Linked DNA regions of Homo sapiens. The protein of the gene in region 2 interacts with the protein of the main gene of each other region in a pairwise test. Each region holds a gene or a part of one and is shown on either strand. Other genes may lie near its edges.

What was found.
Region 1: the proteins of PPM1H (region 2) and RAB10 interact in binary tests that used the Homo sapiens proteins (3 or more experiments, as listed by UniProt).

The regions. Positions count from the first base shown.
Region 1 is NC_000002.12:26,121,060-26,128,085, reverse strand, and holds part of RAB10 (ras-related protein Rab-10), read right to left. Parts: intron 943-7,026; coding exon 853-942; intron 237-852; coding exon 135-236; intron 1-134. UniProt on the Homo sapiens protein: The small GTPases Rab are key regulators of intracellular membrane trafficking, from the formation of transport vesicles to their fusion with membranes.
Region 2 is NC_000012.12:62,687,149-62,694,174, forward strand, and holds part of PPM1H (protein phosphatase 1H), read right to left. Parts: intron 6,852-7,026; coding exon 6,788-6,851; intron 2,659-6,787; coding exon 2,551-2,658; intron 1-2,550. UniProt on the Homo sapiens protein: Dephosphorylates CDKN1B at 'Thr-187', thus removing a signal for proteasomal degradation.

The DNA.
Region 1 (7,026 bases), on a different chromosome or scaffold from region 2:
GCTGGGGACTGCTGCCCTACAGAAACAATACCACCCAAACTCAAATTCTGTATGTAAATCCAGTACTTCAGAATAGACAAAATATTCAACAGAGATACTCAGGTACCTGGCAGGATATAAAAACAGGAACTTACCTTTCGAAGGATATCTTCAGCTAACGTGAGGAACGCCTTTTCGATGTTTATATTTGCTTTTGCACTAGTCTCAAAAAACCTAATACCATGCTCCCTTGCAATCTAAAACAGAAACAAAATATCATCATAAAATTATCAAGCATGGGTTGCCAACTGCTGACTTTAACAGCTTAAATATTAATCTTATTCTGAAGGCAGTGGTCCCAACTAGAATATATAACACAGAATATTTCAGCAAGTCAAGCTCTTTCATAAAACAAACAAAAGAAAAGTAATCTCCTTACCCCAAAAGTTTATTTCAGATATTCTAAGTCAGATACTTCACACTGGGGGCAAACTTATGAGAAGCTCAACCTGACTCCTCAGGGTCTAATTTCTGCTCACCATAGGCTCCTGATTGTCACATTTTAGAACCATACTAATTGATACATTTCCTTAAAGTCCTAAGTTTAAAAACCGAGGATTAATGACTTATATTTTTCTCTCTTTGTAGTTTAAATAAGGCTAAAAATACTATGGGCACATTTGATTCTCCCATACATGTTAAATATGCACTGAAAAAAAATTCACTCAAATGATAAAATATTATTTCCAACAAGCATTTTAAAAACTATGTAATTAGCTTAGTGTGTTCGATCACTATTACTATAAAAATAATCAAAAGTAGCATTACCTTTACAAAGACAGAGCAGAGTATCAGTTTAATTCAGATTTTTACCTGTTCTCCTTTTCCTTTAGGTACAACTCTTTTGTCGTCCATATCACACTTGTTTCCTAGTAACATTCTTTCCACATCTTCATTGGCATGCTAAAATGAAATAAAATTTTACTTTTACATACTACCATGAATTACGGCTTAACAGTCTTTAAAAGTGACTTTATTCTCTCAATTTAGAGGGTCATTTCTATAGCTTTGAAGTTTTAAAGCAGTCACCCTAAAACTACTCCATACTAAAAGCCTACACAAATTCTTAGATTACCTAGCAAAAGAAACGCAATTCCCAAGACATATCCATGTCAAATACTATTTCCTCCCTAAAGGAGGCTGTCTACTTTCTAGGTATGTTCTTTCTTACCAAAAGAGAAGATACAAGCAAAGAAACTTGCATAATCTAAATCCAGGCTGGATCATTTCAGATTTTATAATGCATACTACCCTATAGAAGCCTTAATTAAACATTTTATAGAGCCTTAAACTCTCAAATAGCTGTGCTGCTATGGCACAAGGAGGTCCATGCAGAAAAATCAGTTAAAAACAAGTGGTTGTCCCCTTAAGATCCCAATGACAATTTTTGCAGAAATAGAAAGATCTATCCAAAAATTCATATGGAATCTAACATCAAAAGAATCTCTCTTTTTGAGACAGAGCCTTGCTCTGTTGCCCAGGCTGGAGTGCAGTGGTGTGATCTGGGCTTCCTGCAACTTTCGCCTCCCGAGTTCAAGCGATTCTCCTGCCTTAGCCTCTTGAGTAGCTGTGAGTAGCTGGGACTACAGGTGTGTGTACTACCATGCCAGCTAATTTTTGTAGTTTTCTGGTAGAGATGGGGGGTTTTGCCATGTTGGCCAGGCTGATCGCGAACTCCTGGCCTCAAGTGATCCACCCCCATCGGCCTCCCAAAGAGCTAGGATTACAGGCATGAGCCACTGAGCCCAGCCAAAATAATATTAGCTGGGGGAGTCAAATTTCAGAACTTACTGCAAATCAAAAAGTGTGGAACTGGCATAAAGACAGATACACAGACTAATGGAATGGAATAGAGAGCCCAGAAATAAATCCTCACATACTTAGTCAAATGACCCTCGACAAGGATGCCAAAATCAGTCAATAGGGAAAGGACAGTCTTTTCAATAAATAGCACTAGGAAAACCAGATATCCACATGCAAAACAATGAAGCTGGATCCTTATTTTAAACCATATAAAAAAATTAACTTGAACTAGATCAAAGACCTCAAACTATAAAACTCTTAGAAGAAAACATAGGGAAAAGCTTCAGGACACTGGATTTGGCAATGGTTTCTTTGACATGATACCAAAAGCACAGGCAATAAAAGAAAAAGTAGTTAAACTGTACTTCATCAAAGTTAAAAACTACTGTGCAACAAAGGACGCTATCAAGAGAATGAAAAGACTACCCACAAAAAGGAGGAAATATTTGTAAATCATGTATTTGAAAGGGAATAATACCTAGAATATATAAAAAACACCTAAAACTCCTAACAACAACAAAAAATGACAGCACTTTGGGAGGCTGTCAGGAAAATTGCCTGAGCCCAGGAGTTCGAGACTAGCCTGAGTAACACTGTGAGACCTCATCTCTACAAAAAATTTAAAAATTAGCCAGGCACGGTGGTGTGTGCCTGTAGTCCCAGCTACTTAGGAGGCTGTGGTAGGAGAATCACTTGAGCCTGGGAAGTTGAGGCTGCAGTGAGCCATGATCATCATGCCTCTGTACTCCAGCCTGGGGAACAGAGCAAGAACCTGTCTGGAAAAAATTTAAAAAAAAAAAAAAAAAAAAGCAAGCAAAGGATTTGAATAGACATTTCTTCAAAGAAGATATACAAACAAACAATATGCACATGAATAGATGCTCAATATCACTAAGATTAGGAAATGCAAATCAAAAACCACAATGAGAGATACCACTACATACCCATTAGTATGGCTACTATTAAAAAAACAGAAAACACATATTGGCGAGGATGTGGAGAAACCGACACCTTTGTGTACTGTTGGTAGGAATGTAAAATGGTGCAATCACTGTGGAAAAGTCTGGTGATTCCTCAAAAGGTTACACACAGAATTATCATATGATCCAGCAATTCCACTCATGGGTATACACGCAGAAGAATTTAAAGCAGGGACTCAGATATTTGTACACCAGTGTTCACAGCAACATTATTCACAATAGTAAAAGGGTGAAAACAACCCACATATCCAACAATGGGTGAATGAATAAACAGAACATGGCATATAAAAACAATGGAATATTATTCAGCCTCAAAAAATAAACAAGTTCTGACACATGCTACAATGTAGATGAACCTTGAAAACTTTATGTTAAATGAAGTAAATTACTTACAAATTGAACAAATACTATATGATTCCACTTATATGAGGTACCTATAACAGTCAAATTCATAGAAAATAGAATGGTGACAGTTGCCAGGAGATGGGGAAAGGGGGAGACAGAAATCATTGTTTAATGGATGCAAAGCTTGAGTTCAGAAAGATGAAAAAGTTCTGGAAATGGATGGTGGTGACGGTTGCACAACAGTAGAATGTACTTAACACCACTGAACTATACACCAAAATAATAGTTAAAATGAAAATTTCATGTTGTATGTATTTCACCACAATTTTAAAAAGTATTCAAAAACAACAATAGGCTGAGCACGGGGGCTCATGCCTGTAATCCCAACACTTTAAGAAGCTGAGGCAGGAGGAGCACTTGAGCCCAAGAGCTCAAGGCTGGAGTGAACTATTATCACTGCCACTGCACTCCAGCCAGGGCAACAAAGCAAGAACCTGTCTCAAAAAAAAAAAAAAAAAAAAAAAAAAAAGCAACAACAACAATAAGAAAAACAACAGCAACAAAACTGCCAAATGGCTGCGGTTACTTCATTTCCTGTAGCTATAAGAAAAAAAAAAACTAGGAAAGTTATAAAATATGCTGATTTAAAACAACATACAGTTGACCCTTGAACAATGGGGGTAAGGGTATACCATGTATAACTTTTACTCCCCAAACACTTAATTAGTAACAGCCTGATGCTAACCAGAAGTATTATCAGTAACAGTCGATTAACATATTTTATATATGTATTCTATACTGTATTCTTACCATAAAGTTAGAGAAAAGAAAATGTTATTAAGAAAATCATAAGGAAGAAAAATATATTTACTATTCATTAAGTGGAAGTGGATCATCATAAAGGTCTTCATCCTCAATGTCTTCAAATTGAGTAGGCTGAGGAGGAGAAAGAGGAGGGGGTTGGTCTTGCTGTCTCAGGGAAGGCAGAGGCAGAAGAGGTAGAGAAGGTGGAAGGGGAGGCAGGCACACTCAGTTTAACTTTACGGAAAAACATTGTAATTTCTTTTTTGCTTTTTCATTTCTTTAAAAATATTTCTATACAAAACCAATCCTTCTTTCATCATTTGCTTCAGTTTCAGTGCCTGTATCACACAATGGTCCATGTTGTACAGTAAGTCTAAAGCAGTCTTGAATAATCAGAACCCTTCTGCCAGATTGTCTACAGTCAATTTGTTTTCTGGCACTACTTCTTTGCCTTCTTCCTTATCGTCCAACGCTGGTTTGGAAGCACCGGCATCTTCATTAAATCATCTTCTGTTGATTCCTCTGGTTGATGTCTATTAGCTCTTGTCTTATCCACAGTCTCTTTCATAAATTCCTTGACTGGCTCTGCTACAAATCCTGTGAAATCATGCTCAACATCGGTACACAGTTTTCTCCAGCAGGAAGTTACTGTTTTGTGCTTGATGGCTTTCATGGCTTTTTCTATAACGATGGCATCTTCAGCGGTGTAATTCCTCCAGATTTTCATGATGTTCTATTGAGGTTAGAGTACCGTGTGTTATTAACCTTAAAGGTCCTCATGATCCCCTGATCTAGATGCTGAATTAGAGACTGTGTTCGGGGGCAAGTAGACCACTTCAATGTTTTCGGTGTTAAACTCATGGGGTTCTGGGTGGCCAGGGGCACTGTCCAACATCAAAAGAACTTTAAAGGGCTGTCCCATAATGGCAAGGTATTTCCTGATTTCAGGGACAAAGTATTGATGGAACCAATCCAGAAAAAGGATTCTCAGTGTTCAGGTCTTCTTGTTGAATGATCAAAAAACTGGCAGCTTCAAAAGACTTTTCCCTTCAGGTCTTGGGGGTTAGCAACTTTATACGTAAGGGCAGTCAGTCCTGATCATAAACCCAATTGCATTTGCACAGAACAGTAGTTAGCCTATCCCTTCCTGCCTTAATTCCCTGTGCTTTCTTCTTTTCCTAACACTCATGTCCTTTGTGGCCTGCCCCCCTCCCTGCCACCCCGAGAATAGGACACTTTTAACTGCATTAAAGACTTGTTCAGCGGTGCCCAGGAACTTGTCTGCTGTGTCTTAGTCAGCAGAAGCTGCTTCTCCTGTTAGCCTGCCATTTTTAGGCCAAGCCTCTTTCTAAAATTATCAAACCATTCTTTGCTGGCATTAACTCCTCTAGCTTCTCTTCCGTTTTGCTTTAAGTTGTCATATAATAACTTCACTTTTTCTTGAATATCATAGTCTACAAGTATGCCCTTTTTTTTTGTTTTTTTTTTTGAGACAGAGTCGCTCTGTCGCCCAGGCTGGAGTGCAGTGGTGTGATCTCAGCTCACTGCAAGCTCTGCCTCCCGGGTTCACACCATTCTCCTGCCTCAGCCTCCCGAGTGGCTGGGACTACAGGCGCCCGCCACCACGCCTGGCTAATTTTTTGTATTTTCAGTAGAGACGGGGTTTCAACGTGTTAGCCAGGATGGTCTCGATCTCCTGACCTCGTGATCTGCCCGCCTTGGCCTCCCAAAGTGCTGGGATTACAGGCGTGAGCCACCGCGCCCAGCCTACAAGTATGCCTTTCTTATAGCAATCCTGTACCCACATAAGAGCTGCATTTTCAACATGAGATAAAAAGGTATTCTGTAAAAAGTGCAAGGTTTCACACCTCCTGCTGTGGCTGCAGTGATGGCTTCACAAATTTTCTTTTATTTAAAATGGTCCTTATGCTGGATTAATTTATCTTGAAATAACGGGCAACCACAGCTGCAGACCTCATTCTACAGTACATATTAAGCAATTCAATTTTTTCTTGTAATGTCATGACTTTTCTGTTTCTCAGGATTGCTTCTGGCATCACTAGTGGCACTTTGTATAGGTCTGATGGTGTTATTCAAGGTTTATGGTATTGCACTAGACACGATGAAAACACGCAAGAACCACAAAAGACCTCTTTTGATTGCAATATGGGATTTACTGGAGACACAAACTGTTCACGGGGAGATGATCCACATCACATGGTGTTTTAAGCAGACACTTGGAAACATACGAGCTCACCAAAATAGCAACAGGAGGTGGCTACAAAATTATCACAGTAGTACAGTATGTATTAGTTATTTTTATGCAATTATGATTTAATACTGCATCTCTGTTACATTTCTCTTGATGCAAAAGGTGCCTTGTATGGGCTCTGTGTGTTTGAGTGTTAATAAATTTAAACTTTTAATAATAGATCTGTGTATGTTTTATGGTAGTAATAAAATAGACTAGTATCTACATATACTTTAGACATTCATAATATACTTAACTTTTTCTTAATTTCCCCCCCGCCCAATATTTCTAGGTTATGTGGCTTGTCTGTGAGTTTTTCAAGTTGTTGCAAGTCTCTAACATTTTTTCCAAAAGATTTGTTTTTAAAAACCTGTTTATAGAGCTGGGTGTGGTGGCACACACCTGTAATCCCAGCTTCTTGGGAGGCTGAGAAGGAAGAATCACTTGACCCCTGGAGTTTGAGACCAGCCTGGGCAACACTGCGAGTCCCCATCTCTTTAAACAAAAATATCCATGTGTAAGTGAACCTGCAGTTCAAGGGTCAATGACAGTTTAAAAGGGGGTAGACAAAGGTGGGATTAGGGAGGAAACAACTCTTTTGTTGCAAGGACGATACCCTTAGTAGAATCACAAGCTTAACAAAGAAAAATTATACCGCATGTGGTGGCTCACGCCTGTAAAGCCAGCACTTTGGGAGGCTGAGGTGGGTGGATCACATGAGGTCAGGGGTTCGAGACCAGCCTGGCCAATATGGCAAAACCCTGTCTCTACTAAAATTACTAAAATTAGCCGGGTGTGGCGATG
Region 2 (7,026 bases):
CTGAGAGCTTTCCGCTGTGGAGGCTTTGCAGGGCTGCCTTGATTTCAAAACCACTTTCCCATAAAGCCTGGCTGTTCAATCATTCTGCTCATGGACACCATAAATATCTCTTCTAATATTATTACTATTGTTTTTTTGAGTCAGCGTCTCACTCTGCCACCCAGGCTGGAGTGTCATGGCACAATCATGGCTCACTGCAACTTCGAGCTCCTGGGCTCAAGCAATCCTCTCACCTCAGCCTTCTGAGTAGCTGGGGCAGGCATGTGCCACCACATCAAACTAATTTTTTACTTTTTGTAAGAACAAGGGTCCTGCTATGTTGCCCATGCTGGTCTCAAGCAATCCTCCTGCCTTAGCCGCCCAAAGTGCTGGGATTACAGGTATGAGCCACCATAGCCGGCCTTCTTGCAGTACTTTTTTTTTTTTTTTTGAGTTAGCTCTAGTAAGTTTCTGTTTCCTCTGACCAAAATAGTCTTTGTTAAAACAGCACCTGCTCTTGGGAAGTACATGCAAATAGAGTTATGTCTAAATGTTCTGAGCATTTCCAGTCCAAGGAATTATTTTAATGCTTAATTACAGGCAAGCCGCAGTGGCTGATGCCTGCAATCCCAGCACTTTGGGAGGCCGAGGCAGGTGGATCACTATAGCTCAGGAATTCAACACCAGCCTGGCCAACATGGTGAAACCCTGTCTCCACTAAAAATACAAAAATTAGCCAGGCATGGTGGTGCCCACCTGTAATCCCAGCTACTTGGGAGGCTGAGGCAGGAGCATCACTTGAATCTGGGAGGTGGAGGGTGCAGTGAGCCAACATTGCACCACTGCACTCCAGCCTGGGCAACAGAGTGAGACTCCATCTCAAAAAAAAAAAAAAAAAGAAACAAAAAACCTTAATTACACATTGTAGTAAATGCTATTGGTTCCTGACTTATGCCTTCCTGATTTCCTTCTACTATCGAAATTGGGAGAGTTAAAACTCTTGCTCTCCCAAACTCCCTTGCAGCTAGAAGGTCATGTAACACAGTTCTGGCCAATGAGAGGCAAGTGAATATCTGTTGGGACAGAGGCTGCCCCTCCTTTCCATCTTTGCATAGAAATGTCAGGCTTGGACCTACTGCCACCACCTTGTAACCATGAAGGGAAAGTCAAAGAAATGCAGAGACGCTACAGCCCTGACACAATGGAGGTGCTGAACCAACGCCAGCAGCCACCAGATTTCAGCCTTCTTACTGGGTGAGAAAAATTTACCTTTAAACTCTTAGGCTGTTGCAAAAGTAATTAAAAAAAAAAAATGGCAAAAACTGTAATTACTTTTGCACCAACCTAATACTATCGGTTAGACTTTTCCAAATTTGGAAGCAAAAAAATTTCTAAATGATATATCCAGAAAGTCAACATAGAAATCGATACTGTTTCCTATATGGTAAGACACATGATTTTTTTTAAACCAAATATATGACCAACTTGTTTGTAAATTAACTTCTCTAAACATCAGCTGAATGACAGAAGCTCTTCAGGTAATTAGTCTAACGAGGGGATAAGGTATACATAAATAACTATGATCAGGCCAGGTGTGGTAGCTCACGCCTATAATCTCAGCACTTAGGGAGGCTGAGACGGGTGGATCACTTGAGGTCAGGAGTTCAACACCAGCCTAACCAACATAGAGAAACCCTGTCTCTACTAAAAATACAAAAATTAGCTGGGTATGGTGGTGTGTGCCTGTAGTCCCAGCTACTCGGGAGGCTGAGACAGGAGAATCACTTGAGCCCAGGAGACAGAAGTTGCAGTTAGCCGATATCATGCCACTACACTCCAGCCTGGGCGACAGAGCGAGACTTTGTCTCAAAATACAAAACAAAACAAAACAACTGTGACCGAAGGCAGACAGTGAAAACACTGTACGTGGAAGGTGCTCTATGTATATCCCAAGTAGGGAGAGACATTACTTCTGGTTGGGCAAGGAAGAAATCAGGGAACTCTCCATAAAAAAGCATCTAAGCTAAACTCCAGAGAAAAAAAGAATTTGGATGTTTGGAGTTGGGGAGAAAGGGCATTCTTGGCAAAAGGAATAGTTTAAGCAAATATGGGAAACCTAAGGTCATGTAAGGGAAACAGCAAGTTCATTCTGGCTGGTGCAGGAGAACAAAGATCAGAGAAGTCCAGACCAAATTATAATAAGCCTTGAACACCAAGTGAATGGGAGTCTGAGCTTTACTCTCCATGCCTGGGCTGCCATTGAAGGTTTCTGAGCAATTAGGAGTCAGTTTTTAAGGAAAATTTACCTGACTGCAATAAGTAGCATGGATTGGCAGACTTAGAAAATGTCAGGAGGAGGCTGTGCAGCCATCTGGGTAAGAGGTGATGAAGGTGTGAACCAGAAGAGTCAAAGTGAGAATGGAGTGGGAAAAAGACACAGACGTGAGAGATACAGTGGAAGTACATATAATACAAGTTGGCTACTGTCTGGATATGGGGTGTGAGTCACAGGAGGAATAACGCCGAAAATGTTTTATTGCACAAAATATAAACAAAAACCTCATGCGGTACCTCTGGAGCTGAAGACAGGAATGGTTTAATGTAGATGTTGGAGTCATGCACCTTCAGGTCATGGTCCCCAAGTCCCCTGGTCACTCCAATAGTTGCCATTACCCGGGCCTAGGAGTATAAGCAGAGGGTCATCAGAAACACGCACACAGTGAAAGCATCCCATTCCAGTGCAGCTGCCTGGGCTAGGAACAACCAAACAATTTTCCAGTTCCTCCTGCCCAGATATGTTTCCAGGCCCCTTGCTGCTAACATACGTGGATAGCTCTTACCAAGAAAGGGCTCACCAAAATCACTTCTGTATTTGAGGAGTGCTTTTTCTATCCATTATCTTAAGCTTGACAGGTTGCTGCTGTTTCTTTTCAGCTTTCTTTTTTTGGAGACTGGAAGGAAGGATGTCCAATAAACTAACTCCAATGCATGCGTGACGTCTACAGCTGCAGAAATCAGTTCATATCAAACCCAATAGGATTGATCGATCCATCCATCCATCCATCCATCCATCCACCCACCCATCCACACACCCACCAATCTTTCTGTTACATATCCACTGTACAAGTATTTGCTCAACACCAGCTATGTCCTTAGTCCTGTGATATGTACTAGTAAAAGGTGTAAAAAATCAGAAATAGCTCTTGCCCTCCCAGAGTTCACCTATTATGTTTTATGGCTGGAGAAAAGAAACTTATCAACTCTATAACCTATCCTGCTAAGATCTCCACAAATTCCCTCTGGGTGGAAAGGAACAAAATGTCACCAGTGCTGTGACATAGCTACACAGAGGCCTCAGGGCTGAGACCTCATCCTGAACTGTTTTTGAATGGTGTAAGGAAGTAACACTATTACACCAATGCCTACACAGTCAGCTTAAATATCTCCTGTTATGCTGAAGATCTGATTTACCCAAACATTTATTGGGTGCCTACTATGTACTTACATCATATGTTGGGGACACAAATGTCTAAGGCCTCGTCCCTACTACAAAGAAACTTGGGGCCACGTGCGGTGGCTCTTGCCTGTAATCCCAGCACTTTGGGAGGCTGAGGCAGGTGGATCACTTGAGGTCAGGAGTTTGAGACCAGCCTGGCTGACATGGTGAAACCCCATCTCTACGAAAAATACAAAATTTAGCTAGGCATGGTGGTGGGCACCTGTAATCCCAGCTGCTTGGAGGCTGAGGCATGAGAATCACTTGAACCTGGAAGGTGGAGGTTGCAGTGAATTGAGATCATGCCACTGCAGTCTAGCCTGGGTGACACAGTGAGACTCAGTCTCAAACCAACAAACAAACAAATAAAAAAACCAAAAAGAAACTTGGTAAGGGAGATAAGAGGGAGATGTGTAATTAATAACACATAAAATATGGTTAAGTACTGAAAAACACATAGACAATGGGTTATGCAAGTTTAGAGGAGGTAAAAATTCTACTGAGAAGGCTCCACGGAGGAGGTGGCACTTAGCACAGAAAGGTGGATTGCATCAAGACAGGCGACACAGAGGGATGGAGTGAAAGTCATCCTGGGTGGAAGAAAGCAGTGTCCTAACCCTTAATCATAAAAAATATATCCGGTGTAGTGAAATGGTTCAAAGACCTGAGCTTGAATCCTCACTCTATTACCTGGGTGATAAGAGTAATTACCTCCTATGAGTGGGGATGAAGTAAATAAATGCTAAGAAACACTGCAATTTAATATATTGTCTTCATCTTCATCCTAGACTGTCAACAGGGCTGTGAATTTTGAAGCCAGCCTTGGTTCGGAAGGTAGGCAGAGTTCACATTAAGCAGAAATGAAACCATGACACCTTTTTGAGGGCAAGGGTCAGAGGGGATAAAGACACGAGACACAGCCAGACACAGTAGCTCACATGTGTAATCCCAGCACTTTGGGAGGCCAAGGCAGGAGGATCACTTGAGCCCAGGAGTTTGAGACTAGCCAGGGCAATGTGGTAAAACCTCCTGACTACAAAAAATACAAAAATTAGCCAGTGTGGTGGCATGCGCCTGTAGTCCCAGCTACTCAGGAGGCTGAAGTGGGAGGATCACCTGATCCTGGGATGTCGAGCCTGAAGTGAGCCGAGATTGTGCCACCGTACTCCAGCCTGATGCCATGTCTCAAAAAAAAAAAAAAAAAGTGATGCAAAGCAAAGCCTGGGGCCCTCTGCCCTGCTGGGAGGCTGGACTGGCTCCCTTCTAGCCAAGAAGTGCTCAACTCTAAATGTGAAAAATTCTGAGTCCCTTGTGGCTCTCCTGCTCTCCTCCCTGAAATGGCGGCTTCTCTGTGTGCTCTTTCCAGCCAAAGAAATCTGATGTTTCTGCTAGTGACTGACCTTGTTTACGAAGTATCCAGGTGTTACCCACACCAGTCTTTAAAAGCATCTGAAGAAAGAAAATGAGAAGTAATGGCCACAGAAGTACTCTGAAATTTCTGCGTAGGGGTACGCGGAGAAGAAAGAGAAAATCCCAGTCCAGGATCTAGAAGGAGCTCCAAGAACTCATGGAGTCCTCAGAAAGGGGTGGTATCTACCAACAAAAGCAAAATGGAGACATGGTGGCTTTTAAATAGGCCAACAGGTACACGGACAGAACTTGCCACCTGCCCATCGCAAGACCATCAAGCTTAAATTACCTGAAATGCTTGAGGAACATGATGTTTTGGTGAATTGAACTTTATACTAAAATTAGAAAACTCTTGCTCCTTCAAATCTTACTGCTATAAACTTCCAAGAATACATCATTCCATTTTCCTATTGTACTAAGGAAAGTATACTGAACATAACTGAACAGCTTATTTAATACTTATGCATTTATGTCAGGTACCAGGCTAGACAGGAACTAGAGATACAGGGGTAACAGAATGTGTTCCTGAGTTTACTGGAACTCACTGGATATTAAAGGGTAATACAGAGAATCTCAGCCCCACAAAGAAATGGAGCTGCAGGCATAGGTCATTGGGCTGAATGATACTCATTAATGGTGCCCATTGTACCAAAAGGCACAAATATTTATATCAGAACAGTGCCTATTAGCCCTGACACGATTCTTAACCAGAGACTGTGATCTGAAAGGTGTTCATTTTCATGAATGGGGTATGTTCGTTTAAAAAATGATTCCTACATGGATCAGATATTTGTGTTTGGTATTCCTCCTTCTGTTGAGATGTCTTTTTGCATTGAAATCACTGCTGGTCTACACGGAGCCCAAAACCTAACCATGTTTGTTCTCTTGCTTTTGCTCTGACACACACACACACACACACACACACACACACTCTGCCCATGGAAGGCATCCTTTGGTTTTCTTCTGAGTCATTTCTTCTTGATAAAAACTATCGTATCGAATGCTGGAAAAATTATCAGTTGAAGACTCTTCTCAATGTGACCACATTTTTCACTTGGAATGCTTCACACCGAGTTGAAATGTATTAGTGTTCCGAGGAAGAATGCAATGATTCAGAAGGTGTTTGTTCTTACTAGGAAATAGATTCCAAGCTTCTTGCTCTCCACTCCAGGATTTCAACCTCCTCCAGGCCTCTGCTCAGAGACCACTTTAGGATCCACAGCTTTTCTTTGGTTCGACAACGTGCTGTTCAGTGCTGGATTCTGACTGGAACCCTGGGAGCTGATGATGGTCTTTGTTATCTTAGTCTGGACTCTGGTTGCTGTGACCTTATAGTCTAATTACAGTGACGCTTTGGACTCTCTTCCATGGGGCAAGTGGCAAACAGACTTGCAAAGTCTGGACTTCCATGGTGGAGTCTGAGACGCGCGAAGCAGACAGAAAGCCAAGGCACCACATCCGCAGCTGCCCCTCGCTTGGCTGCGTGATCTGCCTGAGCTGTTTTAACCTCACAGTCCCAGCTGCCTCGTCTGCCAGATGGATATAACACAGCCAGCTTGACCTGCCTCCTTGCTCGTTGTCAGATATAAATGAGATGATGTGTGTGAAAGTGGTTCATGTTTAAACACTGTAAAAAGTTATTCAAATGGATTGGGAAGGGGGACTTTATTTTCACAAAATTGGCTTGAGTCCCTTGTGCTCACCGCCCACCTCCCACCCCCACTACTCCTTGGACCCTGAAGACAGGAGGCCTGAAGGATGATGGATGGGATATGCTTTCAAGCTGTCAAGGCTATAAAATCACAAGCTGCTGAGTGGAACACACGGACTGCCACGGGCTATGTGGAGCGAAGGCGGGACAGAGCCCTGTCCTCTCTACCCAGGGGAAGCACACGTGCCTACCTTCTTGCCTTCTCCATATATAAGGGGGAACTTCAAGTCCTCATCCTCAATGGTTTTGTATGCCCTGTAGGGGATAAACAACATTTTAAAAAAGGTTTGCACTCAATTAGTGACCTGCTGCCCTGACACCGACTGCTAGGGATTTCATTTTCCCTGAGACCCCATCCACTCACCACACTGACTACCTCTTCCTTTATAGGGAGTTGTTCTCCCTACAGAATTGTGTGTGTGTGTCTTTT